7 linked regions of the Homo sapiens genome follow. The protein of the gene in region 4 purifies or fractionates together with the protein of the main gene of each other region. This does not show direct contact. Each region holds a gene or a part of one and is shown on either strand. Other genes may lie near its edges.

What was found.
Region 1: the proteins of TBCB (region 4) and TXNDC5 fractionate together in Homo sapiens (co-fractionation; one large-scale study listed by BioGRID). This does not show direct contact.
Region 2: the proteins of TBCB (region 4) and PLBD2 fractionate together in Homo sapiens (co-fractionation; one large-scale study listed by BioGRID). This does not show direct contact.
Region 3: the proteins of TBCB (region 4) and HK2 fractionate together in Homo sapiens (co-fractionation; one large-scale study listed by BioGRID). This does not show direct contact.
Region 5: the proteins of TBCB (region 4) and ANXA6 fractionate together in Homo sapiens (co-fractionation; one large-scale study listed by BioGRID). This does not show direct contact.
Region 6: the proteins of TBCB (region 4) and SCPEP1 fractionate together in Homo sapiens (co-fractionation; one large-scale study listed by BioGRID). This does not show direct contact.
Region 7: the proteins of TBCB (region 4) and ISOC1 fractionate together in Homo sapiens (co-fractionation; one large-scale study listed by BioGRID). This does not show direct contact.

Annotation. Positions count from the first base shown.
Region 1 is NC_000006.12:7,880,494-7,884,171, reverse strand, and holds the end of TXNDC5 (thioredoxin domain-containing protein 5 isoform 1 precursor), read left to right. Parts: intron 1-905; coding exon 906-1,028; 3' UTR 1,029-2,655; downstream 2,656-3,678. UniProt on the Homo sapiens protein: Protein disulfide isomerase of the endoplasmic reticulum lumen involved in the formation of disulfide bonds in proteins. Can reduce insulin disulfide bonds.
Region 2 is NC_000012.12:113,368,161-113,372,452, reverse strand, and holds part of PLBD2 (putative phospholipase B-like 2 isoform 1 precursor), read right to left. Parts: intron 3,338-4,292; coding exon 3,244-3,337; intron 1,383-3,243; exon of another isoform or gene 1,196-1,382; coding exon of another isoform or gene 1,187-1,195; intron 1-1,186. UniProt on the Homo sapiens protein: Putative phospholipase.
Region 3 is NC_000002.12:74,836,807-74,841,098, forward strand, and holds part of HK2 (hexokinase-2), read left to right. Parts: intron 1-4,292. UniProt on the Homo sapiens protein: Catalyzes the phosphorylation of hexose, such as D-glucose and D-fructose, to hexose 6-phosphate (D-glucose 6-phosphate and D-fructose 6-phosphate, respectively).
Region 4 is NC_000019.10:36,118,038-36,122,329, forward strand, and holds part of TBCB (tubulin-folding cofactor B), read left to right. Parts: intron 1-2,672; coding exon 2,673-2,769; intron 2,770-3,489; coding exon 3,490-3,681; exon of another isoform or gene 3,682-4,136; intron 4,137-4,292.
Region 5 is NC_000005.10:151,130,038-151,134,329, forward strand, and holds part of ANXA6 (annexin A6), read right to left. Parts: intron 3,151-4,292; coding exon 3,057-3,150; intron 2,535-3,056; coding exon 2,439-2,534; intron 1,253-2,438; coding exon 1,194-1,252; intron 1-1,193. UniProt on the Homo sapiens protein: May associate with CD21. May regulate the release of Ca(2+) from intracellular stores.
Region 6 is NC_000017.11:56,994,695-56,998,986, forward strand, and holds part of SCPEP1 (retinoid-inducible serine carboxypeptidase precursor), read left to right. Parts: intron 1-286; coding exon 287-324; intron 325-812; coding exon 813-941; intron 942-2,267; coding exon 2,268-2,361; intron 2,362-3,273; coding exon of another isoform or gene 3,274-3,365; exon of another isoform or gene 3,366-3,690; coding exon 3,691-3,804; intron 3,805-4,292. UniProt on the Homo sapiens protein: May be involved in vascular wall and kidney homeostasis.
Region 7 is NC_000005.10:129,097,382-129,101,673, forward strand, and holds part of ISOC1 (isochorismatase domain-containing protein 1), read left to right. Parts: intron 1-306; exon of another isoform or gene 307-385; intron 386-4,292.

The sequences.
Region 1 (3,678 bases), on a different chromosome or scaffold from region 4:
CCGCTTTGTAGTTAGTATCCATGTTTCAGTGCAGGTTTTCAGGCCTTGCTGTCTGAGTAACAAGGCCGTGAAGTAACAGACCCCACGCCATAGACTGTGGGGCTTCCCACACCGCGACTCTTGATGATTGACCAGTGGTCTGTAGCCTTTGCCATAAATACCCGAGTCGCTCATTTTTCACACATAAGCCAGCATTATAAAATGCAGTGGCTGAATCTAAGAATCATTTCAACATAACCTCCTTTCTGAAAGGGCCATGCCAGCAAGTCGGTCCTGTGCTTGGGTTAACTACTGCCTTCATTCCAAGCTGTTAGCACAGTCTGATGGCCTGGAAGATTTGTCATTTTTTTTCTTCTTTGTTATTCAGACACTTTTGGAGCCCTTTAGATGGAGAATAGACGTAACCCAGACATAGTTTCCTTATCATTAAAAGATACCAGTTGTTTTTTGTGCCCTAAAATTCTTAGAAACGAGTTGCCACTGAAACATGTATCCTCAAGAGGATCTTGCTCTCATGGTCTGGTCTGCAGACCACCAGGGCATCGCCAGGGAGGTCATTGGAAATGCAGACTCCCAGGCCTGCTCAATCCAAATCTGCACCTTCAGCAGATCCGCAGGTGATCGTGTGCACAGTAAAGACTGAAAGCGTCTGCTTTAGGGTAAAGTCGTTCCTTTGAGGCTGATCTTTAATGATGTCATTTTGAATTCAGAAGTGAACACACAGCCCCACGGCTGTGCTTTCTAAACAGTAGTCTGCTCCTGTTTTAATGGAATATACACCTTTAAAAATTAGCCACAGAATTTTTCCAGCCACAACGGTAGGAGTGTATCTGGTTTTATTTAGGAAGCAATTTGCATGTGATCTGGACCGCTGGTTTGCAAACTTTTTTCTTTTTTGTTTTAAGGTACGAGGCTACCCCACGTTATTGCTTTTCCGAGGAGGGAAGAAAGTCAGTGAGCACAGTGGAGGCAGAGACCTTGACTCGTTACACCGCTTTGTCCTGAGCCAAGCGAAAGACGAACTTTAGGAACACAGTTGGAGGTCACCTCTCCTGCCCAGCTCCCGCACCCTGCGTTTAGGAGTTCAGTCCCACAGAGGCCACTGGGTTCCCAGTGGTGGCTGTTCAGAAAGCAGAACATACTAAGCGTGAGGTATCTTCTTTGTGTGTGTGTTTTCCAAGCCAACACACTCTACAGATTCTTTATTAAGTTAAGTTTCTCTAAGTAAATGTGTAACTCATGGTCACTGTGTAAACATTTTCAGTGGCGATATATCCCCTTTGACCTTCTCTTGATGAAATTTACATGGTTTCCTTTGAGACTAAAATAGCGTTGAGGGAAATGAAATTGCTGGACTATTTGTGGCTCCTGAGTTGAGTGATTTTGGTGAAAGAAAGCACATCCAAAGCATAGTTTACCTGCCCACGAGTTCTGGAAAGGTGGCCTTGTGGCAGTATTGACGTTCCTCTGATCTTAAGGTCACAGTTGACTCAATACTGTGTTGGTCCGTAGCATGGAGCAGATTGAAATGCAAAAACCCACACCTCTGGAAGATACCTTCACGGCCGCTGCTGGAGCTTCTGTTGCTGTGAATACTTCTCTCAGTGTGAGAGGTTAGCCGTGATGAAAGCAGCGTTACTTCTGACCGTGCCTGAGTAAGAGAATGCTGATGCCATAACTTTATGTGTCGATACTTGTCAAATCAGTTACTGTTCAGGGGATCCTTCTGTTTCTCACGGGGTGAAACATGTCTTTAGTTCCTCATGTTAACACGAAGCCAGAGCCCACATGAACTGTTGGATGTCTTCCTTAGAAAGGGTAGGCATGGAAAATTCCACGAGGCTCATTCTCAGTATCTCATTAACTCATTGAAAGATTCCAGTTGTATTTGTCACCTGGGGTGACAAGACCAGACAGGCTTTCCCAGGCCTGGGTATCCAGGGAGGCTCTGCAGCCCTGCTGAAGGGCCCTAACTAGAGTTCTAGAGTTTCTGATTCTGTTTCTCAGTAGTCCTTTTAGAGGCTTGCTATACTTGGTCTGCTTCAAGGAGGTCGACCTTCTAATGTATGAAGAATGGGATGCATTTGATCTCAAGACCAAAGACAGATGTCAGTGGGCTGCTCTGGCCCTGGTGTGCACGGCTGTGGCAGCTGTTGATGCCAGTGTCCTCTAACTCATGCTGTCCTTGTGATTAAACACCTCTATCTCCCTTGGGAATAAGCACATACAGGCTTAAGCTCTAAGATAGATAGGTGTTTGTCCTTTTACCATCGAGCTACTTCCCATAATAACCACTTTGCATCCAACACTCTTCACCCACCTCCCATACGCAAGGGGATGTGGATACTTGGCCCAAAGTAACTGGTGGTAGGAATCTTAGAAACAAGACCACTTATACTGTCTGTCTGAGGCAGAAGATAACAGCAGCATCTCGACCAGCCTCTGCCTTAAAGGAAATCTTTATTAATCACGTATGGTTCACAGATAATTCTTTTTTTAAAAAAACCCAACCTCCTAGAGAAGCACAACTGTCAAGAGTCTTGTACACACAACTTCAGCTTTGCATCACGAGTCTTGTATTCCAAGAAAATCAAAGTGGTACAATTTGTTTGTTTACACTATGATACTTTCTAAATAAACTCTTTTTTTTTAAAAGTCTGGTCTTTCCTTCAATGTTACAGCAAAACAGATATAAAATAGACAATAAATTATAGTTTATATTTACAAAAAAAGCTGTAAGTGCAAACAGTTGTAGATTATAAATGTATTATTTAATCAGTTTAGTATGAAATTGCCTTCCCAGTACATGATTGTGAAAAAGACATTTAGAAAATATTCTAAAATTTAATCTGAGCCTCACTTTCTACAAGGGAAATCATGATTTCCGTTCATAAACAGCATGCTCATCCCCCTAACACCATTCTTATAAGCTGGGCACCCTCATTTTATTTTCTTCGTTGGTTCTAACCCTGTGGCGTGGTATGCTGTATAGTAAAAAGGCAGAGAACCACTTTACTGAAAAGGTACTAGAGCCGGCAGTCCAGAAGTTAATGTGCTGGTCAAAGAACCGTTCTGGTAAAGAAGAGGTGAGCATTGCCTTCACGTGTTACACGGTTACACACCCCTTGTAGCCTCACCTCAGTGTAATCAGTCTACTTTTGGTACTAGCAAAGAGTACAGCAAATGGAGGATTGAGGTGTAGAAATGGTATGTTTTGGCTGAAATAAGTGTATTTTCACACCAACAAAACTCCAGCACGAACATACAACAGCAATGACTGAGACAAGGGCGCCCCGTGGAGCCCTGGCTGTGGCCTGGGCTGTGCGTCCTGTGGACTTCTGGGAATGAACTGAACAGAGGCGTTCCCCCCACTTCCCCGATTTCTGTTCTCTGTAAAATCTACCTTTGATAGACAGTACTGAACCAGCTGATCCTTTAGCCAAGAATACATTTAACTCCTTTGAGATTATTTTCCCTATTTACTAACAAACACCCCAAATAGCTTGATCTACAGCTAAAACTAATTTTGGTGGGTTTTTGGGGGAGGAGGGTAGGAAGAGCTTCACGGTTATGTTTCTGCAGTTACCAGACCTTATGCTACAGACATCCAAACTCAGCTTGCTACAGACCAACAACTACTCACGTCATTTACCAAGTGAGCAAATTATTAATGAGGTC
Region 2 (4,292 bases), on a different chromosome or scaffold from region 4:
GCCCTGAGAGCCTTTAGCCTGCAAAGCCTATAACTGATGGCACCACCTCTGCTACTGGGGACCCCAATCTATATGTGTGTTCAGTTAGTCAATCCATGAATGTTTTTTTTTTGAGCACCTATTATGTTCCTTTTTAAGCACTGAGGACATAGCAGGGAACAAAACAGCAATAACCCTTCTGATTCCACTGGGCAAGAGAATGCCGTGGCAGTTTCACCCAGACTTCATGCGGCCCTCTGCACTTCCCACCGAGATGCCACCTGCATGAGTCCAGGCTCGCCTGCTGGGGGACAAAAGACCACGTAGCCTGGTCATCCCCGTGAGTGAGTGGCAGCACTCACTGCCTCAGGATTGATGGCTTCATGACTGCTGCTCCATCACCATCTCACTGAAACACATCCAAATCCTGTTCATCCTTCAAGGCCCACTAAGACACCACCTCCTCCATGCAGGCCTCCATGACTTCCACAGCATTTCCCCACTGCCTGTCCTATACCAGGTTCTGGGCTGGGATCAGGGGACACAGCTGGGGACAAGACATATTACCACCCACAAGAAGGCCACAGGCTAGAGGGGGAGGCAGCAGGGCACACTAGTTAGGAGCGAGACGTGGGTTAGACAGAGCTGAGGTTGAATGGTGCCTCCTCTGTGGACTGGCTGGCTGACCTTGTGAAAGTAGCTTCACCTCTCTGGGCCCAAGCCTGCCCATCCATCCAGGGGAGGTGCACATGCTTCCCTCAGGGGTTTAGGGTGGAGGCTCAGTGAGACTTTGTGGGCAAAGTGCCTGGCACATGGGCCTGGGATTCCTGACATAAGAGCCACTTGTGGCCTTGCCTCAGTGTCCCCAGCAGGCCGTGAGCCCCTTGAGAGACTGAACCGTGTCTCATTCACCACTGAGCACCCACAACAGCCCTGGCCCAGCATCTGACCACTTCCCCAGACACTAAGGTCCCAGAGGGCCACCCACAACTGCGACTGGGTGTCAGAAGGAGCAGTGTGAGTTTTATAAAAGGGTGTCCCACTGGACGTTGTCCTCTGTGATGTGCTCTTTCCCCCTCGCCTCCAGGCATCTCAGATTCACCCATTTCCACTGCTCTGTCATGCTGCACTGTGCACCTCCACCTGGTCAGCCATTCACCTGCCCATGGTGTTTTAAGGACTCCCACTTTGGGACTGCTTTGAGTACCTTGTGCATGTCCGTGGGTCACCTCTAAGGTATGCACCCAAGTAGTAGGGCTGCTGGATCCTAAGGCACATGCAGGTTCAACTCCACAAGTTGATGTCAACTTGTGACCCAATGCATGCCTCCATCTGCATCACAGGAGACAGCTGTCACTCCACAGCCTCGCCTACTTCTTGTTTTGTTTTTTGTGTGGTTTTGTTTTGTTTCATTTTTTTGAGACAAGGTCTCATTCTGTCACAAGGCTGGAGTACAGTGGTACAATCCTAGCTCACTGCAGCCTCCAACTCCTGAGCTCAAGCAGTCCTCCCTCCTCAGCCTCCCAACATCCTGGGATTACAGGCAGGTGCTCTGCCTTTGGGCCACTGGTTAGGCCATCAATGGAAAAGTCAGTAATTTATGGATTCCCTGGAAAATGTCGGTGTTTACTGTGAAGTACACATGACAAGCTGTCTCTGTAAAGTGGTCATCAATGCCTGATAGCATGTCTGCCTAGCCTAGGCCAGGTGGCTCGTACCTGTAATCCCAACACTCTGGGAAGCCGAGGTGGGCAGATCACTTGAGGTCAGGAGTTTGAGACCAGCCTGGCCAACATGGCAAAACCCCATCTCTACTTGAAATGCAAAAACTAGCCAGACGTGGTGGTGCATGCCTGTAATTCCAGCTACTCTGGAGGCTGAGGCATGAGAATCATTTGAACCCAGGGAGGCAGAGGTTGCAGTAAGCCAAGATCACGCCACTGTACTCCAGTCTAGGTGACAGAGTGAGACTCTGTCTCAAAAAAAAAAAAAAAAAAAAAAGAAAAGAAAAAGAAAATTACACTAGGTACTATCTGATACACAGAAAAAATATATAACATATTCTAAGTTATGAAGCATGATAATAAAATGAACATCCAAACTAAAACCTAGAATGGTACTGATACCATTGAGCATCCCCTAAGCCCCTGCCTCCTCTATCCCTAGAGGCACCCACCACCCTAAATGCGGTAGCTATCATTCCCTTTCATTCAGTCATTTATATTGAGATATAGTCAGCATACCATAAAATTCACATTTAAAAATGTACAATTTGGCCAGGCACAGTGGCTCACACCTGTAATCCCAGCACTTTGGGAGGCCGAGGTGGGCGGATCACTTGAGGTCAGGAGTTTGAGACCAGCCTGGCCAACAGGGCGAAATCCCACCTCTACTAAAAATACAAAAATTAGGTGGGCATGGTTGTGCACATCTGTAATCCCAGCTAGTCGGAAGGCTGAGGCAGGAAAATCACTTGAACCTGGGAAGCAGAGGTTGCAGTGAGCCGAGATCACACCACTGCACTCCAGCCTGGGTGACAGAGCAAGACTCTGTCTCAAAAAAAAAAAAAGTACAATTCATGGTTTTTAATGTATTCATAAGGTTGTGCAACTATCACCACTCTCTAACTCCAGAACATTTTCATCATCCCAGAAAGAAACCCCATACCCATCAGCAGTCACTCCCCACTCCCCACTCCCCCCAAGTCCCTGGCACCACTAGTTGGCTTTCTGTCTCTGTAGATTTGCTTATTCTGAACATTTTATATAAACAGAATCATACAGTATGTGCCCTTTTGTGACTGGTTTTTTTCGTTTAGCATGTTTTCAAGGTTCTTTCATGTTCTGGTGTGCGTCAGTCCTTTATTCCCGTTTATAGCTGAATAATGTTGCATTGTATGATAGATCACGTTGTATGTATCCATTCATCAGCAGCTGGGCATTCGAGTTGTGCCTACTCCCTTACTTTTGTTAAGCTAGTTTTACTGCATGTGATGAGTCCCTGAACAACATACTATTTTGCTTTACTTGTTATTGAGCTTTATAAGAAGTCAGACAATATCAGAAGTGGGTGAGAGCCAGGTGCAGTGGCCGGCCCCTAGTGTAATTTTCTAAAGAATGCATGTCCACTTTTTCTCCCCAGATAGATGAAGGGCTGTGGCAGGAGTTGGGGGCCTACTCTGCACACATCTCAAAAGCACACTGGGGAACATGCTTGTGGGGCTGGGGCAGGGTGGGAGCCCCATGTCCCCACCTTGGCCCTTACCTCCTCCGACACAGCAGCCTCCACCACACCGGCTGCATAGGCCTGCAAGCTGTCATTGTATTGGCCACTTGTGCCCAGCTCCAGGAAGGCCCACCTGGAGGGGAAGGAGGGGACACTCAGTCAGCAGCAGAGGCCCCCAGCTAGACACATGGCATCTCCAGGCTTAAACTATGAAAACAACACAGTGGTCAGTAGACGTGCACGTGAATGTCTGTCTGTCCATCTTTGTGAGCTTGCCGGATTAAATCCCTCCAAGAGGAACTACTGGCTCAAAGGGTACACGTATTTTTAATTTTCATAGATATTGACAAACAGCCTCCCCCAAAAATGCAGAACATATCTATATTCCCTTACCCACAATAACACCAGCTAACAACATCCATTGAGGATGACATGTTAGCTCTGTGCCACGCCATGTTCTAGTCACTTTCATGTCTATTAACTCATTGAGTCCCCTATAATCCTACAAGGTGGGCACGTCCCCATCTTGTCCCTCTTGCAGAAGAGGAGGAAATTAAAACACAGACTTATGTCACATGCCATCCCCACCCCCATGTCCATGCCCTTTGCCACGAGACTACAGTCCTCCACCAATGGCCAAGTATCCTTCCCTGCTCCTTCATTTGGGCTTGGTTGTGTCACGTGACCTGCTTTGGCCAATGGGATATGGGTGGAAGTGACAGCATGCTAGTTATAAGATTAGCCTTCAGGAAGCCTCACTTGCCCCTTTGTGCCTCTGCCATCACCATGGGAAGAACAAGCCCCGGCCAGCCCACTGGTCCCAGGGATATGAGAGCCACACAAGCACACCAGGTCTGTAGAGCTGCAGCATGAAGTAGAGCTGCCCCAGCAGCCCCACGGATCCATGAGAATCAATGTTGTTGGTTTAAGCTGCTGGATTGGGGCTGGTTTATCACACAGCACTGCTGCCCAATACTAGCGGATACATGTGAAAGGTCACAGAGTTGGCAGGGGCAGGATTCACTTCCAGGCAGGCTGGCTCCCACTCCTCTGAAGGAGCACTTCTCAACCTCTGATGTATATATGCA
Region 3 (4,292 bases), on a different chromosome or scaffold from region 4:
GAGAGAAGAATGAAAATTTAGTATAACTTTAGAGTCTTTTGAAAAGACCTTTTGATTTGGACCCTTCTGAAATCCCCTTGTGATAAGATAATCTTACATATTCTGGGTTGTAGTCTGAGGACGTGGAAGGCTTGGGTTCACCTGCCCAACGAGGTCACTTGTCGTCTCCTGATGGACAAGCCCAGTGTTTTGGGGCATTAGAGATGAGAATCAGGGTTATTTCCTCACTTTTGCCAATTGGAACTCAGGAGCGACTGCAGAGCACCTACTGTGTACCTGGCACTGTTCTAAGCTCTTAGGTATGTCAGCTTATTAACATTCAAATCAGCCCCATGAGGTGAAGACTGATTGTTATTAGCATCCCTGTTTAACTGAGGCCCAGGGGTAACTTGCCCAAGGTCTCCAGCTTTTCTGTACGAGCTGGGAATCGAAGCCATGCATTTGGCTTTAGAGCACCATGCTCTTGAGCACATACTTGCCTGTCTCTGGGGAATGTGAGCGGGCTCCTGGCCCGGGCCTCTGCCCACTCCTGGCTGCTGGTAGCACCCCCACCCATCATGACCACAGATGGAACTAGCTCTTCTGTTGGTTTGATCAGTGGCACCAGTACCCTCTGGCTACTCCAGCTGAGAGTCCTGGATTCATTTTCATCAACTCTCTAACTCTGTCAACTGGTCTCTTGGTTACTTTGGAGGCCTGCTAAGGGTGTCCCTAAAACTCTTTCTGGAGCCAGACTGGATCATTTCAGGAGCTCTCTACAGCTCTTAATTGCCTCCCGCTTCTACCCCCCAGCTTAGCCTCATCTTCCTCTCCATCCTTTCATTCCTCTGTCCTGCCTGTTCACACTAGGTCCTTTTGCCCTTGTCTTTTTTTTTTTTTTTTTTTTTTGAGACACAGTTTCACTCTGTCACCAGGCTGGAGTGCAGTGGCGCTATCTCTGCTTAGTGCAACCTCTGCCTCCCAGGTTCAAGCGATTCTCCTGCCTCAGCCTCCTGAGTAGTTGGGATTACAGGCGTGCGCCACCATGCCCAGCTATTTTTTGTATTTTTAGTAGAGACAGGGTTTCACCATGTTGGCCAGGATGGTCTCGATCTCCTTACCTTGTGATCCACCTGCCTCAGCCTCCCGTAGTGTTGGGATTACAGGCGTGAGCCACCGCACGAGGCCTGCCCTTGCCATTTTTGTGGCCCTGAACTCTGCTTGGCTTCTTTCCACTTAACCCCTTCCAGCTCAAATGCAGTTTACTGTCTTAATTTTCTTTCTGCTTCCTTCTCCCCCTCCTGTGTGCCAACATTAGTGTGTTTGAACCTTGCATGACATTTGTTTCATTCCACCATCTGTTAGAGTTGATGGTTTTCAGTTTGGGTTCCTTCCTCAGGGCAGGGAGAATCTTGGCTGTTAGGTTTGTCGCTGCAGTTCCTGGCCACTGGTGAGGTGCTCAGTGAGTACAAGAGTAAAGGAGGAGACCTTTCTGGAGAAAGAAGCTAAACCAGGGCTGCAGGAAGTGGAGGAGCTGGGCAGGGCCAGCTAGTCTTAGGCTAAAGGGATGGTATATGGGTGGACACTTGGAGGGGTAGTTCGCAGTTATCTCTTCATCCAAAGCATGACCTGAGGCCAAAGCATGACCTGAGGCCGGTCCTGAGGAGGGAGAGAGAAAGGGAGGAGAGTTTCCTGTCCTTCAGCAATCAAGACTGTGTGTCCTGCCTATGGAGAGATGGAAGATTCTTTCTATTTTTTTTTTTTTTTTTTTGAGACGGAGTCTCGCTCTGTCGCCCAGGCTGGAGTGCAGTGGCGCAATCTCAGCTCACTGCAAACTCCACCTCCCGGGTTCACGCCATTCTCCTGCCTCAGCCTCCCGAGTAGCTGGGACTACAGGCGCCTGCCACCATGCCCGGGTATTTTTTTGTATTTTTAGTAGAGACGAGGTTTCACCGTGTTATCCAGGATGGTCTCAATCTCCTGACCTCGTGATCTGCCTGACTCCGCCTCCCAAAGTGGTGGGATTACAGGAGTGAGCCACCGCGCCTGGCTGATTCTTTCTATTGATTGAGATAAGTTAGTATACAAGATGCAGGATTTTGTCATTTAAGAATGGAGAATCAGGGTTAACCATAGAGATAAAATGAAGTATATACTCCTTTCTCTGACCATTGACCAAATTGTTTTAATACGCATAGACTGGTGACATTTGCACTGGAATCCTGTAATAGACATAGCTCATGTAGATTCCTTGTTGTATGAGCAAGGGGTGACCTTCAATGCTGGGCTTGAGAGGAATATCTTGGAAGCGAAAAGATTGAACAGAGACCCCAAGAGTCAAGAAAGCCAAGAATTTTAATGTTTTTTTAAGAACCTACAGTGAGTGCAAGGCCCTCTGAGTGTGATATGGGAGACAGAAACCCAGATACTTTTCAGTTGTCTAGAGAGATATGGCTGCTAGGTCAAAAGAGTGAATTACCATGGGTGGGGCTGGAGTTAGAGCCTCAAGGAACCTTGGCACATTTTGGACACCTACCACGTGCCATTAGTCCGCACGTATGGGATTAGAGTATCAAGAGTAAATTGCTGATTGAAACCTTAATAATATTATTTTTGTCTATGTTAATTTTGATTGGACAAACTGACATTGACAGGTACAATTCACTCCATTTGTTCAATATGTAACATCTTGGTAACCTAACTCTGTCCCTTTCTCTGCTCAGAAGACAACTGATGGTAGTTAGGAATACTTTGTAGCTTTTGTTAACCATCCGTTTGTTTTATATTGCCAAACTTACATTTCAGAGAGAGCTAAGAAGCACTTTTTCCTCTACCTTTGAATGAATTAACTCCCCTGAGCTCAGCCAAAGTCAATTTTTTTTTTTTTTTGTGAGACAGAGTTTCGCTCTGTCACCAGGCTGGAGTGCAGTGGCACAATCTTGGCTCACTGCAACCTCCACCTCCTGGGTTCAAGTGATTCTCCTACCTCAGTCTCCCAAGTAGCTGGGACTACAGGTGCGCACCACCATGCCCAGCTAATTTTTTTTTAGTAGAGATGGGGTTTCACCATGTTGACCAGGATGGTCTCGATCTCTTGACCTCGTGATCTGCCCACTTTGGCCTCCCAAAGTGCTGGGATTACAGGCGTGAGCCACTGCGCCTGGCCTTTTTTTTTTTTTTTTTTTTTTGAGATGGAGTCTCACTCTGTCGCCCAGGCTGGAGTACAGTGGCGTGATCTCAGCTCACTGCAACCTCGGCCTCCTGGGTTCCTGCCGTTCGCCTGCCTCAGCCTCCCGAGTAGCTGGGACTACAGGCGCCCACCACCATGTCCGGTTAATTTTTTTATATCTTTAGTAGAGATGGGGTTTTTCACTGTGTTAGCCAGGATGGTCTTATCTCCTGACCTCATGATCCACCTGCCTAGGCCTCCCAAAGTACTGGGATTACTTTGGCGTGAGCCACCGCGCCAGGCATTTTTTTTTTTTTTTTAAACATCACTTTTCAAAGTTGAACTTTTCCAGTACTCTGGGGAGTTTGGGGCAATTGGAGGTCCTTTTCCAAGGGGGGAATCAGAGCAACACAAACCACAGTTGGCAATGGGAGTAAGGAGATCTGATGAACTGAAAGAACTTGGAGCCCCAGAAAACTGGCTTCCTTTGTTCAGATACTTCCGGTTTAAAAGACCACATCTTGATAAGACGTTCCTCATTATCATCGTTGAGCTTTGAAGTCAGCAGGTTTGGTTTGTTTTCCAACACTGTACGTAGTCTGTCTTTGCCTTTTCAAAGCTGTGGGGGTTATGCCGGGCGCGGTGGCTCACGCCTGTAATCCCAGCACTTTGAGAGGCCAAGGCGGGCGGATCACGAGGTCAGGATATCAAGACCATCCTGGCTAACACGGTGAAACCCCGTCTCTACTAAAAATACAAAAAAAAAAAAAAAAAATTAGCCGGGCGTGGTGGCAGGCACCTGTAGTCCCAGCTACTTGGGAGGCTGAGGCAGGAGAATCAGTTGAGCCCGGGAGGTGGAGCTTGCAGTGAGCTGAGATCGCACCAATGCACTCCAGCCTGGGCGACAGAGCAAGACTCTGTCTCAAAAAAAAAAAAAAAAAAAAAAAAAAGCTGTGGGGGTTGGGATGTGGCAAATTAAATCCCCATAGCTCACTGGACACGTCTTCATATCACACTCTGTGGATCACACACCATGCTTCCTTGTGCTGGAGTGGCTCTTTCTGCTTATCTTTAAAGCAGTTTTCTCAGCCTTGGTGCTATTGACATTTTGGGACAGATACGTTTTTTGTGAGGGGCTATCCCA
Region 4 (4,292 bases):
TTACAGGCATGAGCCACCGCACCCGGCCCAGAATCTACTTTCTTAAGGATGAACTGTCAGTAGCATTTTGGCCCCAGTCTACATGACTCTAGAGAGAACTGCTTCTTTTTTCTCTCGTTGATTAACTGTTCATTCCCCATCTGTGTTGTGCCAGGGGTTTCATTATGACTGCATCTGAGAAGTTCTAGTGTATGAGGCAGATGTTGGCTAAATGGCCAGAGGACTGAATGTGAAGGGTCAGGGGAGACAAGGGTTGTGTAGGAGATCATGAAGCTGGGAGACCCTATCCTGGGGTACCTGATGCATCAGTGACGTCTGGGAGGACATCCTGGAGGTGGTGCTGCTGGAGCAGAGACGAGAAGAATAAAAAGAATTGGTCGGGCATGGTGGTTCACGCCTGTAATCCCAGTGCCTTGGGAGGCTGAGGTGGACAGATCACTTAAGGTCAGGAGTTCGAGACGGTGAAACCCCGTCTCTCCTAAAAATACAGAAATTAGCTGGGCGTGGTGGCAGATGCCTGTAATCCTAGCTACTCAGGAGGCTGAGGCAGGAGGATCACTTGAACCCAGGAGCTGGAAGTTGCAGTGAGCTGAGATCACACCACTGCACTCCAGTTTGGATGATAGAGTGAGATCCTATCTTTAAAAAAAAAAAAAAAAAAAAGGTTAACTGAAGATGGGGAAGGGGTGCCCTAGGAGTGGGGCACAACCCAGCAAACACTCCAAGGTGGGAGGGAGCGCGGTGGGGATTAAGACAGGCCACTTCTGTGGCCAAACACTGTGGAAGCTGGGGAGGACCCTGACCTGGCTCAGGTGTTCACAGGCCCCCTCTGGCTGTGTGTGGGGAACAGGTGGTGGAGGACAGGAAGAGTAGGGAGACCAGGAAGGGGCTGCTGTGAGAGTCCTGATGAGGGGACGAGGTCTGGAGCTGTGGGTCAGGCCTCTGCTGGGTGCACAGGACTGAGCCTTTGGGCCACCCTGGGCAGCTGAAGCTAAGGGGTGCGGGTGTTCATAGGCACCTCATAGGCAGTGGCATCTTTGAGCAGGTTTCATAACAGGCGGTTCAGGTACACACAGACCTCCCAGGCCACTCAAGGAAGGTGTTCCAGAGTGGAGCCACTGGGGAATTTTTACATTTTCTAAAATTCTTTTTCTCTTTATAAATATCACCCATATTCATTGTTTAAAATAACAGAACTTCAAATTTGTGAAAATTCTCAACAGAAATTCTCAGTGACGCTTCATCCGGAGGTAAAGGCCATTCCTATTTTGCCATGTTAGCCCAGTGGCTTAGGCCAGACACCTCAGGGTGTTCCTTGGGCCCGCTCTCTCCCTCACCCCCACATCCACTCTCATCAAATCCTCTCGGCTCCACCTACAAAAACTTCCCTGACCCTGGTCCAGCCTCCATCCTTCCCCCAACCTCGCCATCCCGGCAGCTTCCTCCCTGGCCTCCCCGCTCCCCATCTCAGCCAGAGGGAGCCTGGGACCACCTGAGTCAGGCCAGGGCCCTCCTAGCTCAGAGCCCTGCCCTGGTGGCACTTCGCTCCAGATAAAAACCAAAGTCTAGGCCAGGTGCGGTGGATCGTGCCTGTAATCCCACCCAGTACATTGGGAGGCTGAGGTGGGAAGATCACTTGAGGTCAGGAGTTCTAGACCAGCCTGACCAGCATGGCAAAATGTCGTCTCTACTTAAAAATACAAAAATTAGCCGGGTGTGGTGGTGTGTGCCTATAGTTTCAGCTGCCCGGGAGGCTGAGGCAGGAGAATCACTTGAATTTGCAGTGAGGCAGAGGTTTCCGTGAGCTGAGATCACACCACCACACTCCAGCCTGGGTGACAGAGCGAGACTCCGTCAAAAAAAAAAAAAAAACCCAAAGTCTCCAGCAGTCCCTTGTGTCTTCCACTCTCCCTCTGGCTCGCTCCACCCCACCCGCACCACCCACTCTAGAGCGTGAAGGACATTTCTACCTCTGGCCGTCTGCACCTGCCGTTCTTGCTCATCTTTCCAGCCTTGGCTGAAACATCCCCTCTTTTGGGAAGCCTACCCTCCCATGCTCCTTAAGCCTCTTCCCTGTCATATTTTTCTCCATAGCCATCCTCCAGTGTTTCATAGGTACCTGTTCCTTTGTTTGTGGTTGGCCTTCTCCCTGCACAATGAGCACAGCCTGAGGGCAGAGTGCGTCTGTGTTTACACTGAGTCCCCAGCATGAGGCCCAGCTGGGCCCCTGGGAGCTCGGAAACCAATGAATGAATGAATAGTGGGGGCAGAACAGGAAGAGATGCTCTGGGGCCTGAGGTTGGGGCCAGCTTAGGAGAGTCCCAGAGGCCCATCGAGGAGATGCGCTGTGCACAGGGCTGTGGGCAAGGCCTGAGCTCTGCCGGTTGGACTCTGTGACTTTGGGGCCCTTGGCGATGTTGATGCCAGCAAGCGGGGAACTTCTGGGGACAGAGGCAGCCTCTGGGAGCTTGGATGGGGGTGAGGAAGGGGAGGTGGCCAGTGTACGTAGCTACTTCTCCCTTCCGCTGGGCTCAGGAGAGAAGAGAAGGCTGCAGTACAGGCGAGGGAGGGAGATGCGTTTTTCCCAGATGGAGACACTGAAGTCCCTGCACCCAGCACCCAGGCCTCCCTGGCCAGACCCTGATCCCCACGGAGCCCCTCCCCTCACACAGGTCATTGACCACAGTGGCGCCCGCCTTGGTGAGTATGAGGACGTGTCCCGGGTGGAGAAGTACACGATCTCACAAGAAGCCTACGACCAGAGGCAAGGTACGGGCAGGTGGGCGTCGAGGGGTGCGTGGGGGCCAGAGGGAGTATGTGCAGGTATGAGGGCGGGCAGGTTAGACAGGGCCCCTGCAGGGAGGCCAGTGGTGTAGACGGGGGGCCGAGAGCTTGGGAGGATATAGGGGTGAGGCTGGGAGTGGGGACAGACGGAGGCCTGGGGTGGGAATGAGGGCCGGGAGGTGTCAGGGGTATGGGCAGTCAGACGTGGTCGGGGGAGGGCTGGGAAAGTGGAGGGAGTTGAGGGGTAGGTGTGGGGGCTGGGTGTTGTCAGGGTCAGATGGGGGCATGGGGCGGTCGGACGGGGTGTGGAGGGCAGGACAGGTGGAATGCGAGTGGACAGGGTGGCGGTCAGTGAGGGCGCCTGGGACGGATCGAGTGTTGGGGGAGACCGGGGGCCTCAGGGCCGGAGGAGGGCGGAGGAGGAAGGCGGATGATGAAGGCAGATGTGCGCTGAAGGGGTGAGAGACCATGGGTCCTGTAGTGAGGGGTGCAGGCGGCACCCCTTCCATTTACGATTGTGGAGTTGGGGGGCCTAGGAGTCCTGGGAGAGGCTAAGGCTGTGGTGGGAGACCTGGGGCTTGGGTGACAGCCCTTTGTCACCTGGAAGAGAGAGTTCCTCCGTGAACGTGGGCCCCTCGTGGGTGGAGCGTCATCCTGTTAGGCCCGGCCGACACCCCAACTGACCCCAGCCCCCTCTGCCCACAGACACGGTCCGCTCTTTCCTGAAGCGCAGCAAGCTCGGCCGGTACAACGAGGAGGAGCGGGCTCAGCAGGAGGCCGAGGCCGCCCAGCGCCTGGCCGAGGAGAAGGCCCAGGCCAGCTCCATCCCCGTGGGCAGCCGCTGTGAGGTGCGGGCGGCGGGACAATCCCCTCGCCGGGGCACCGTCATGTATGTAGGTGCGTGGCTCGCGGGCCCGGTCCCGGGCTCCAGGGCTCCAAGGCCGGGAGGAAATGTTGGGGGCACAGTGGAGCCTCGGAGACCACGCTCTGCCTAGGGGCGCGGGGTTGGGGGGGACTCGAAACGATCTCAGTCCCTGGAGGTGACGGAACCATCTGCCGACACTGACGGCCCAGAGTGTTTGTGGAGGGAAGTGGGAGGCGCAGGCGGAGTGATCTGTCCAGCGAGGGAGGAAGCAGAAGCCAGAGGCACGCGGCCTGTGCGCTTCGAAGCGTGGGGCAGTGTCAGTCGCGGTGGGGAAACGGGCGGCGTGACCAAGGCAGGAGTGAGGGAACACAGGGGGCTGTGTGAGCCCAGAGGAAGCACCTGGAGGCTGGGAGCATCTGAAGGAAAGGAGGCAGCAGCCAGGTGAAAAGGGAGGAAGAGTTCCCGCCAGAAGGAGTAGCGGGTGCAGGTGAGCAGAGCGCAGGAGGTCCACCTGGGGAAGGGGAGCGGGAGGAGAGGGGAGAAGTGTAGTCAGGGGCATGGGCAGGGCGGCGTCACAGTGGAGAGCAGTGTGGATTTTTTTAAAAAGAACAGGCTAGGCATGATGGCTCACGCCTGTAAACTC
Region 5 (4,292 bases), on a different chromosome or scaffold from region 4:
AATTTCCACACTTGATTTTCCTTATAATTTTACCATAGCTTTGTAACTCTAAGCAATACACTTAGATTTACACATTTTGGAACTCTGCAAATATACCACTGTGCATTTAGGTTTTTGCTGTACTATTCCTGATGGTCACTGGGTTGTTTCTAGCTTTTTCCTAATATAAGCAATACTGTTATAAGTTTTTTTTTTCTTTTTCTTTTTTTTTTGAAGAGGCAGGGTCTCACTCTGTTGTCCAGGCTAGAGTACAGTGGCGTGATCACATAGCACTGCGTTCACTGAAGCCTCAAACCCAGGGGCCCTGTGCTCAAGAAATCCTCCTGCCTCAGCCTCCCGAGTAGTTAGGACTACAGGTATGTGCCACAGTCCCTGGCTAGTTCTATTTGTTATTTTTGTAGAGACAAGGGTCTTACTATGTTGCCCAGGCTGGTCTTGAACTTTGGGCCTCAAGTGATCCTCCCACTTTGGCCTCCCAGAGTGCTGGGATCATAGGTGTGAGCCACTGCATGCACTCAGCCTTGTGATGGGCATTCTTAATGAATTCATGCATACAGGCAAACATCTCTCTAGGGCTGAGCTGCCCAACCTCATTATGGCACACTGGTGGGCAGAGAATGGCCGACAGTCTACTTTGTCCTTTCGGAATGGCCAACCAGGGCCAGAAAGGCCCAAGCTCCTGTGTCTCGGGCCTCAGGCCTCTGGCAGCAAATAACTGCATTCATTTCCTCCAGTGCATCACAAAAATACCAGTTTCTTTGTGCGTCATATGTGTAAAAGCCTGGGAAGCTTTCTCAGAAACACACCCAGAGTGGAACTGTCACAGGGTGAGCATCATGAGTCTTAGCAGGCAAGGCCAAAGTGGTCTTGCCTACATACGCTGTATAAAAACATTCTGGTTAATACTTCTTCAAAGTCCGAGCCGCCAACCCATTTGGCTGGAGGGATCAGGTGCAGGCTGCCACCCTAAGTTCATCTGTTGACTCATGACGTCAGGCAGGTATGCAGGTGGCAGGACATGTGACCAGCAGCATTCCTGGCTCTACAGCTCACCTGCGACAGAGCACCTTCACCAGGGTCAGTCCTGTGGCCATCCCTGAAGGGCTCTCTTTGGCCACTGGATCCCAAGGACTTGTCAAAGACTCCCAATAGTCCTCTCCCCAAACCCCATTCACATCAGCCCCACCACGCACCTTCATAGCCTTGAAGAGCCTTTCAGCAAAATATTCCGGGGTGCTCCGGATACACTTCACTGTGAAGAGGGAGGAAGAGGTAGAGTTATTCTGGCTGCCTCAGAAGGGGGATGGGATGGCCTGACTCCCTCTTTGTTTCTATTCCTTGAGGGCCACCTAGCTCAATACAGGAAGAACCACCGTTCCTGATAGCTCACAGCCCCAGATCACCCCAGACCAACCCACTTTTACCGCACACCCAGGGAATAAACAGGAAATAATCTTGTTGAAATAATCCTTTTGAAGTCCATCACAAAGACCGCCTTTATCTTTCTAGTCCTTTTGGTTTTAACAGGGAATTGAGCTGGGGTGGGGGTAGGGTCTGGGGCGAAGGAGGAAAAGGTGTTTTTTAGACCTGCTACACCAGAAAGGTACTGGCAGCTGAATCATTGTGAATCCCACTGAATCACCGTGAGTCCCACTGGCTGACTACTTCAAACAGGGAGGGCAGGGGATGGCTCTGGGAGGGACGATAAAGGAGCTGCAGGTTTCCCCCAAGAAATACAAACACACAACATATCCCTGACTCAGACATGCTAACTGCTGGAATGCCAGAATTGGAAGGGCTTCTGGGGAGGCAATTAAGGCAGTCCATCCTTCCTGCCCCCACACCCTGCACCCCACTTAACAGATGAGGAAACTGAGGTCCAGCAAGCAGAAGTGACTTGCTCCAAGCCCATGTGGGAGAAGCCCTGGTTTGAATCTTGGCTCCACCACTGACTAGCCAGTTCCTCACATCCTCACGTTCTCAGTACCCCCAACTCATTACAAAACTACCCCTCAGGAAATGATCAGCCTGGTGAGACTCAGTTTCCTCATCTGTGAAATAGAGATCATGGCAGTGGCCACTGCTGGGTCTTTTTTAAAGATTACACACTCAGCACAGTGCCTGGCATGCACTAGATGCTCAACAAAAGTCAACTATTATGATCATCATTATCCTCAACCCAAGTTCAGAGCTCTTTGTCCCCCTGCCAGTGGTGGAGAAGGGAGCTGGAGGAAGTCAGTACCTGAGGCTCAAACCCCCTTCCCGTCCCCAGCCTCAGCCATGCTGCCCTGGAGAAACCTTTAGAATTCACGGCCCACATGGTTTTCTCCTTCCCAATTCTATACCATGTAATTCCCCTTTCCATTCTCAGCCCCTTGTTCCTAGGCCAGTGTTCCAGAATCCCCTAAAGCCCCCAGGAATGCAACGTCAGGACATACCTACGGCCAGCATTAGCTTCTCAAAGTCCCCAGACAGCTCCCCTCGGATGCTGGCTTCAATCGGCTTCCCTGTGGTCTTCAGATACTCATCGAACACTGCGTCAGACAGAGAGACAGGGAGGTTTGAGAGTGCCTCTGTACCCCCGAGAAGAAATGAGGACTTCAAGAGCAGGGGGGCACAGTGGCCAGGACGACTGTCCACCATGAAGCTAGGGCTGGTGCTATGATGGAGGCGACTGGGAGGTCACGCACATCACCAGCGCTGTGCAGATGAGCTTCATAGCTGGTGAGAGACTGTGTCTCATCCCCTAACATGGAGACAGGACTGGCACTGAGATGGAAGGCCAAGCATCCTGTTAATGACTTTGCTGAGGGACTATACAAACTGCTGTCTGATATTAGGTTGGTGCAAAAGTAATTGCGGTTTTTGCCATTCCTTTAAAAACGGCAAAAACCGCAGTTACTTTTGCACCAACCTAATAAACTCAGGACTAAAGTTTGGGTTGGGAATGAAGTAGGTATCATGTTCCATTAGTGGTAAAGAAAAGAAAAGAGATAAAGAAAGGCATTATTGGCATCAACCCAAGGGAGCAGCTTCAGGTCTTCTCTGGAGCTTACCCAACCGAAGATGCTGCTTGCTGCGATTTCCCAAGATGTAAATGAACTGGGCTTCATCTGTTCCCCATTTCAGTTCCCCTGCCTCGTATAGGTCCTGAAGGGGAAGAGGTGGCACTTGACTGAAAGAGGAAACCTCAGGAGACAGGACACACTGACCAAGCCACTCAGAACTGCTGCCTGATCCCTGAACACACGAGTAATTGGTAGCCTGAAGACCTTTGCAAATAAAACAGTCATGCATCATTTAATGATGGGGATACATTCTGAGAACTGCCATTGTTAGGCGACTTTGCCATTGTGTGATCATAGAGCACTCGCACACACCTAGATGGCATAGCCTACTACACACCCAGACTCCGTGGTATAGCCTATTGCTCCTAGGCGGCACACCTACCTGTTCAGCGTGTTATCTTACCGAATACTGTAGGCAACTGCAACACAATGGCAAGAATTTGTGTATCCAAACATAAATAATCATAGAAAAGGCACAGTGAAAATATGGGGTTATAATCTTATAGGACTAGCATCACATATCTGGTCCATAATCTTATGGGACTAGCATCATATATGTGGTCCATCATTAACCAAAACACCATTATGTGGTACATGACTATACCTATATGCCTTTCTTCCTTTCTTTCTGGAGAAACTCCTACTCAACCTTCAAGGCCCAGATTAAGTATTCCATTTTTTTCTCAAAGTACTTCCCGATGCCCCCAGGCACAGTTCTATTTCCCTCCTTTCCTCCCTCTCCTAGGCTCCCATAGCTTTCTACTTCTTTATCACTTTGATCTACTGTATATGATAATGATTTCTTCACCTGTCTATCTCCACACTATTGCATGAGCTCCTCAACAACAGGGACTATGTCATAGCATTCTCTGTATCAGCCCCTGTAGTGCTGCTGGCATGTACTGGGTACTCAAAACACCTGCAATGTACAGTATATTGATAGAGAAGGTGTTTGTGTGATTAATGTATGCCTGTCTCTCCCGGTACCACTTGATTTTGTTCATTAGTGATTTCTAAATGCTTGGCAGAGTGCCTAGCACATGCTAGGTATTTTACTTCAATAATATCTAAAAACTGAATGAATAAAGAAAGCTCCAAAGTACACCTCACCAATATACCAATATTACATATGGGATATACCTTTGAAAGATAACTTATATCTTTTCTTCAACAAAGCACCGGTATACATGACAGCTGTGGCTGGGTTATTTCTGGTATTTGATG
Region 6 (4,292 bases), on a different chromosome or scaffold from region 4:
CTGTCATCGGCAATGACTCACTTGCTGGACCAGTATCAGGCCAAATTAATGTGCCATTAGTCTTAAGAGTCAACAGAAAGGCCCCCACACCCTTATCCCACCTTCCAGACACTGAGACATCAGCCCGCCTCCTGCATGGGTACAGGTGAATTGAGGAGCCTTCCAATCCAAAGCCACCGGGTTTCTTGCTTCTGTCTCTTTCTTCTTTAGAGAGAAGACAGTAGGTTTGTCTTTGGAAAGACAGAGGTATGACATACTTGATTTGTACATATGTGATTTCCTTTAGATTCGGTGCTCTCCTGGGGACCTTACCTGTACAGCATGGTAAGTAGATACACATCTGCACCCTCTGGGCAAACAGCCCAGCAGATCTCTTCTGGCTGTGACCCCAGGAAAAGAGATGCTGGATGAGTTTGCCTATGTGGTTGACACTGCTTTTTAGGGACTAGTCATCCACATAGAGTTGGAGACCCAAAGCAAGAGCTCGCCTCAGGGACAAATTGAAAGAAAATCAGCACACATCACTTTTTTCCAGATATAAGAAACACATTTTTCCAATGCCCTAAATTTTTATTACAAAAATTTTCAAATATGCAGAAATGTTGAAAGATCACGGTGAATACCTACTTAGGTTCAGTTAACAATTTGCTGTGTTTCATCCAATAAACATGTGGCTTGTAACAATACACTTTGATATGTGAGCTCCCGTTCTCCTTCCTTCCCCTCTTTCTCCTACCCCTCCCTAACTGCAGCAATACCAGATTGACGTTCCCAAGTAAAGTGGGTCTTTTTGCTCTTGGTTTGCATTCCAGTCTCTTCTCGAAGACAAAGGTCTGGCAGAGGTGTCTAAGGTTGCAGAGCAAGTACTGAATGCCGTAAATAAGGGGCTCTACAGAGAGGCCACAGAGCTGTGGGGGAAAGCAGAAATGATCATTGAACAGGTAAAAAGGGGAAACACTCAGAGGCGAGCCTGCTTGGCTTTTTCTGGTGGGTACAGGGCCCATGGTTGGTGTTGTCAAACTTGGAGTCTACACTGAGGCTCCCCACATATCTGCAAATGATTGCATGCTGGATAATAAATCTCTTGGGTCTAAGCAGTGATGTAGTGGCTCCTTACAGAGTCAGAAAGCCACCCAGGCCTGCAAGACTTGCTTGTCCTTCACTAAATGTATGGATTCTATTAAAAAAAAAAAAAAAAAAGACTGTCTTGCAGAGGTGAGTGTGTGGAGAAAACACATTCCCTTATTGGGACCCTTGCCAAGCAACATTCTGACTCCAGAGAGCCAGAAGGAAAGAATGCGTAGGCTAAGGACTTGGGAGTGTAGGCCCCTCTGCAGCTCTGTTCTCCCTGTAAATTAACACCTAGGCCCTTGGTTTTTTCCCTGCAGGGCCTGATCACTGCTCATATGAGATGCTCACCACTCCAGGGAGAGTGGGCTGACACAGCTGGTTTCTGAGACTTCAGAGCTGCATTTCTTTCTTTATTTTATTTTTTACTTTTTCTTTTTTCCTCTATTTATTTATTTATTTATTTATTTTTGAGACACTCGCCCAGGCTGGAGTGCAATGGCACAGTCTTGGCTCACTGCAACCTCTGCCTCCTGGGCTCAAGTGATTCCCCTGCCTCAGCCTCCCGAGTAGCTGAGATAATTGGCACGCACCACCGCACCCAGCTAATTTTTGTATTTTTAGTAGAGAAGGGGTTTCACCGTGTTGCCCAGGCTGGTCTTGAACTCCTGACCTTAGGTGATCCACCCACCTCAGCCTCCCAAAGTGCTGGGATTATAGGCGTGAGCCACCGCGCCTGGCCTCTTTTTCCTTTCTTTCTTTTTTATTTTTTTTTGAGACTAAGTCTGGCTCTGTCACCCACACTGTAGTGCAGTGGCCCGATCTCGGCTCACTGCAACCTCTGCCTCCTGGGTTCAAGTGATTCTCATGCCTCAGCCTCCAGAGTAGTTGGGACTACAGGTGAGCACCACCACGCCCGGCTGATTTTTGTGTTTTCAGTAGAGAGGGGTTTCACCATGTTGACCAGGCCGGTCTCGAACTCCTGGGCTCAAGTGATCCACCCACCTCAGCCTCCCGAAGTGCTGGGATTACAGACATGAGCCACCAGGCCCAGCCAAAGCTCTATTTCTTTCTGATCCAAGCAGATATACAAAATTAAACCTGTCCTTGGATAAGATAAAGAGCCATGTGTCCTTCTGTTTGGCAGCTTTGATGATAGGAAAATGAAACAAACAGCCAAATAAACTTTTATATTTCAGAACACAGATGGGGTGAACTTCTATAACATCTTAACTAAAAGCACTCCCACGTCTACAATGGAGTCGAGTCTAGAATTCACACAGAGCCACCTAGGTGAGTGAACCTTGAAGTTATTAAAGTCCCTGCCTCAGCCTCCATGCAAAAAGAAACCTGTTTATTAAAAAAAAAAAAAACTTTATTAACATATAATTTGCATACCATAAAATTAACTCACTGTAAGTGGTTTTCAGTATATTCCCAGAGTTGTGCAGTCATCACTACAATCCAGTTATGGAGCATTTCTGTCACCCCAAGGAGATCCCACGTGTCTGCTTGCAGACAGTTCTCATTCCCACTCCCAGCCACAGGCAACCACTCATCTGCCTTCTGTCTCTCTAGATTTTCCTTTTCTGAACATTTTATATAAATACAATCGCACAATAGTTAGTCTTTTGCACTGGCTTCTGTCACATAGCATGATGTTTTTGAAGTTTAGAAACCAGCTTCCATACACCAAATTACAACATCAGTTCAAGACTGAATTTAGTCATCTTTCAGCCAACCAAGAAGCATATAAAGGCTGCAGGATACCCTAGGTTCCACTTTCTAGATGATTCTCTTTGGCCGTTCTGGAGAATCCCAATGGCCCCCAAGTCTATAGAATGTATAATCAATACTATTAGGTTGGTGCAAAAGTAACTGTGGTTTTTGACAGGTTTCAAGAATTATTAACTCACAACTAATGAAGCATTATTTCCCTTCCCACCCAGTTCCCTACCAACCCCTTATTTTGAACCAATTTTGACAAATCTATTTTTTCCCTTTTTTTTTTTAAGAGATAAGGTTTCACTCTGTTGCCCAGGCCAGAGTGCCATTGAATTTGAGAAATTCTGCCATTACTTTTAATGGCAAAAACCGCAGTTACTTGTGCACCAACCTAATAATAAAGCCTCTCCACTTTCAATGTGTTTCTGACTTCCTTCCTCCCGCTGGGGGTGAATCAAGGTGACGCTTTTCCTTTTCCAGCTGAATCTGAAACCCTCCCTCTTGCTGTGCAGCATCCCCAGCAGCTTGGTAAAGATGTCCTCATGGCCAGGCGTGGTGGCTCACACCTGTAATCCCACCACTTGGGAGGCTGAGGCGGGTGGATCATGAGGACAAGAGATCGAGACCATCCTGGCCAACATGGTGAAACCCTGTCTCTACTAAAAATACAAAAATGAGCTGGGCATGGTGGCGGGTGCCTGTAGTTCCAGCTACTCGGGAGGCTGAGGCAGGAAAATCGCTTGAACCCAGGAGGCGGAGGTTTCAGTGAGCCGAGATCGTGCCACTGCACTCCAGCCTGGAGACAGAGAGAGATTCTGTCTCAAAAAAAAAAAAAAAAGATGTCCTCTTGGCCTTACTTCCAGCCCTTTGACTCACTATCTACCAGTTTGGTTTTAGTTTGTCTTTGTCAGCGCCACGTGAGACACCTACAACGAGATGCCTTAAGCCAGCTCATGAATGGCCCCATCAGAAAGAAGCTCAAAATTATTCCTGAGGATCAATCCTGGGGAGGTACTTATATGACCTAATTAAGTGCCGTTTGTACAGTTATGGGGAGAAAAGAGGTGCAAATTCAGAGACCTGAATTTGTAGGGTGGGTTTTGTTGTTGGTGATGATAGGTTATAGGTAAACAATATTACTATCCACGTTTTGTAGGTGAGCAAATAGATACAGAGACAGTAAATGACTTGTCAGGGCTGGATGCAGTGGCTCACGCCTATAATCCCACCACTGTGGGAGACTGAGTTGAGAGGATTGCTTGAGGCCACAATTAAGCAACATAGTAAAGCCCCATCTCTTTAAAAAAATAGAAAAATTAGCTGGGCATGGTGGCATGTGGCATATAGTTCTAACTACTTGGGAGGCTGAGGTGGGAGGATTGCTTGAACCCAGGAGTTTGAGGGTACAGTGAGCTATGATTATGCCACTGCTCTCCAGCCTGGGCAGCAGAGAGAAACCCTGTTTCTTAAAAAGGGGAAAAAAAAGACATCAAAATTGA
Region 7 (4,292 bases), on a different chromosome or scaffold from region 4:
TATATACACACATACATATATATGCATATGTGTGTATAATCTCAGAAAGTCATGATATTTCTCATGACTACTGTACACTATATTCTTTGGAACCTAACAGCATAATCCTAGAGACTTGGATGTTTTATGGCTGTAAGAGACCATACAGTTCATTCCACAACATGTGAGTGGCAGCTTTAAATGCCTGGCACAGTGAATGCAAACTTGGATTCAATTCTTGTTCCTTACCTAATAAATGAACTTTCACTTTGAGGAAGTGCAGAAGAACATAGGGAGGTGGAGGTGAGTAACTTGCTGCAGGTTACATGGCAAGTCTCCGCATATGCCTGGCTAGCTCCTCCACAAATGCGTGTGGAGGAGCTAGCCAGGCATATGCAGAGCGTCACTTACAGCCGAACACAGCACTACTGCTTGCATGTTTAATGAGAATTGAGCAGTCTGGAAAACAAGTCACAAACTTGAGCTCTTGTTTGTTCATTTGTCTTGGTGCTGCTCCTTGTTCTTTGGAATAAATGCTTGTCACTTAGGAAGACTCAAGGTGGCCTATCGGTGAGTCCATGTTACTGGGGATGGTTGGCCCCTTCTTGAAGGCAGGGACAAAGAGCACAAGTTTGGCCACATGTAGTTCATTGCGTAAATAGTGATTTATTATTTCTCCACACTTGGGCCCTGGAGCCTCTGTGGCCCTGGCTCACGTACTGTTAGTCTAGAATGTATTCTTCATTTGCGCCGTGGTATGAGTTGCCTTCGTGCTTATTCTGACAGCTGTGGCTGATGACCTTGTGAAACACAGTGGCTGCCTTTGCCACACTGCACCCGTGCTTGTTAGTGGTTCTATGAGAACTGATCTTTAAGACCCCCCATTGCCAGTATTAGGCTGTGGTAAGTTTTTGGTGACTTCTTTTCTTAAATATTCTGTCAAAGTAACAATGTCTGCCGACAGCTCAGGTAGATGAAGGCATAGCTCATGTTTCATGCTTGGTTTGTATGTCTGCAGCTTTGCCAAATGCTTGAGATCTGATGAATTTTGAGACACGGGAAAGAATATAAATGAGAGGATTATGTAGTGGGGATTTACGTCATTTTTATGACTTAAAAGTTTTAATTTTTCAAAAGGTATTTTGTAAGTTTTAGGTAAAGGAAACATTTAACTATGGAAATTTACATAAATGTTGTATCATGCTACCACCAGTGCATTTTCCAGCCTGTGGCCAGGAAAGACAGAGCCTGCAGAGAAGAGAGGAGGAAATGGACAGTGTAAGAAGGATGCCAGTGAGGGGATTTTACTTCTGTACATAGCAGGGAAGGCTTTGGCAGCTTTCTGTGGCCAGAAGATAAGGGCGTTCCAGGGAAGGTTATTTTGACCTTTTCCCAAGATGGTTAACTGGCAGGGCATTTTGCTCCAGCTTTCATTTTCTTGGAAGTTTATTACTATTATTATTATTTTAAACAGGGGCATGAACATTTTATAGCTAGAAGAGACTGACAGGTTCATGGTGGGAAGGGAGGGAAGGCAGGAGGAAAGGAACCTTGTTCGCCTTTGGCTTGATAGTTTGAAGGTAGTGGTTTTTGATTACAAAACCTTTGCCTCAGGAGCGTGGCAGGAAGAGGGGGTAGATGAGCTAATGCTCAGAGAGGAGACAGCTGGATCCTGAGGTGGTTGTATTGTCTCTACCCCATTGGTTTGATGTGTGTCACTTAAAAAAAAATTAACATTCCAGAATAATACCTAAAGCATTGTATCCTTTTTTGCTCCTTCTGAATACATTAGAGCTACCTATAAATAAACTGTGTTTGAGAGTAGGAGCTATGATCTGAATTTTGAATTTTTTTTCTTGCATTTAGCTAACCAAGGGAATCCCAATGTAGATTCAAATGTCATTGTGGTCCTGGGCTTGTCTAGCTTCACCTTCACCCCAGTCTGAGGCACAGTCTTAAGAAATCCTTCAGTCCTCACCCCTGGGGTGGGTGGAGACAGCTGGCGTCCCTTGGGGATTTAGAAAACTCATACCTTAACTGATAAGCTAGGGTTGTAACCTTATGCCAGTGACATCAATGTTCACAATAGGTGAATATGTTGTAAAAATAAGAGCCAATAAGTATTATTTCACAGCCTAAATTAAAAAGTCCCTGATCTGTTTTTCCAGGAACAATCTTGTCTTAGTGATTTGGTAAGGTCTTGGTAACATCTGGAAATCTACTTTATAAATCACTTTATGATTCACTTTCCTTATTCTGCATATTATGTTAACATAACAAGTTATGCAATGTTAGCATTCCTATAAATATATTTATAGGTTTCTAAAGGGATCTTAATTGTAAATATTTATCCTCATTAGAGGGTAAGTTTTTTAACATATGCTAAGTTTTAGAGTGTAGTGTTTAATATATGAGGGACATCAGAATAGCCTAATACATTTATTGATTGATTATATGAAGCCCATTTAATCCTTGAAATACCCCTATGATGTAGATACTATTTTTCTTGCTGTGTTACAGATAAGGAAATTGCATATGGAGATATTTACCTAAGTTCATGTAATCGAAATTAGTGAAATTGAGATTTGCACTCAGATTCTAATGCCTACTGAGGCTTGTGCTATAAAGGGGATCTTTGTAACCTGGGGGAGTCACATCACAGACCTCTGTTGTAAGTGAGTTGACATTGGAGCCAGGCCTTACTATAGCTGTGGTCATCGGATTTCCTCAGAAACACTTGGGAGTGAAATAACGATGCCCCAGGTCCCCTTCCAGACTTTCTCCCAAACAGATCATGCCTATTTTGTGACTCTAATTGACTACCAAATTTTTTAAACATCGCATTTACAGTTTCAAATTTTAATTATTCCAAATCCCTATAGTAATTTGCTATGGGCTGGGTGATGTGAAAAGTCTTTTGAGTATGAAATCTAAGGTCAAATCCCAGCTATGACAATTCTTAAGAAAGTAGACAAAATATTTATACTTGAATCTGATCTCTTAAACTCTTGCTTGAGGAAGCCATTGGCTATGATCAACTTTTTATATTTAAATATATATATATTTGTATATGTATCATGTGCAAATGTGTGTGTAGGACTATGTGTAGGCATATAGATATACGAAGGTGTGTGGATACATATATTTATATGTGATTTGTTTATATTCCTTAAATATGCATAGATCTGTAATTGCTATGCTTTTACTCCTGGTGACATTTGGTCCAGTCCACTTTTAATTTGCTGAGGCAGGACTGGCTGTCTTACAGTTGCAACATGTAAATGTTTGGCTACTGGCGATATTTTTTAATTACCTTAAAGATTTTGGTTTAAGAGAACTTCATGAGTCAAAGTAAGAAATTTCCGAAATTTAGAGAGTTGTATGATTTTAACAGCCTGTTGGAATTCATGTGGATTTGGGGTGAGGATTTGGGAGGATTGGTTGGACATGATTAAAGTTTTTCAGTATGTTTTTGGTAGCCACAAAAGTTCCTTTCTGTTTGTAAGGTATAGACGTTATTCCCCCAAATATCATAGCATAGGGAGGCCATTAAAAAAAAAAAACTAACTTTTTATTTTAGAATAGCTTTAGATTTACAATAAAGTTGTAAAGATAGTACAGAGAGTTCCTATATTCCTGTACCCAGATTCCCTATTGTTTTTGTTTGTTTGTTTGTTTGTTTGTTTGTGAGACAGGGTCTTGCTCTGTTGCCCAGGCTGGACTGTAGCCTCGACCTCCCGTTCTCAGAGGATCTTCCCACCTCAGCCTCCTGAGGAGCTGGGCCACCAAGCTCAGCTAATCAAAAAAAAAAAAAAAAAAAAAAAAAAAAAAAATATATATATATATATGGTTGGGTTGGGTGTAGTGGTTCACACCTGTAATCCCAGCACTTTGGGAGGCCAAGGCAGGCAGATCCCTTGAGCCCAGGAATTCAAGACCAGCCTGGGCAACATGGTGAAACCCCATCTCTATTAGCAGTACCAAAATTAGCCGGGTGCAGTGGTGCACGCCTGTAATCCCGGCTACTTGGGAGGCTGAGGCACAAGAATCGCTTGAACCAGAAGGTGGAGGTTGCAATGAGTCGAGATCACGCCACTGCACTCCAGCCTGGGCGACAGAGTGAGACTCTGTCTCAAAAAAATATGTTTTGTAGAGACAAGGTCTCACTGTGTTGCCTAGGCTGCTCTTGCAATCCTGGGCTTAAGTGATCCTCCCACCTTGGCCTCCGAAGTGCTGGGATTACCAGCATGAGCCACCATGCCCAGCTGGATTCCCTAACATTAACATTTGATATTCCTGCAGTACATTTGTCA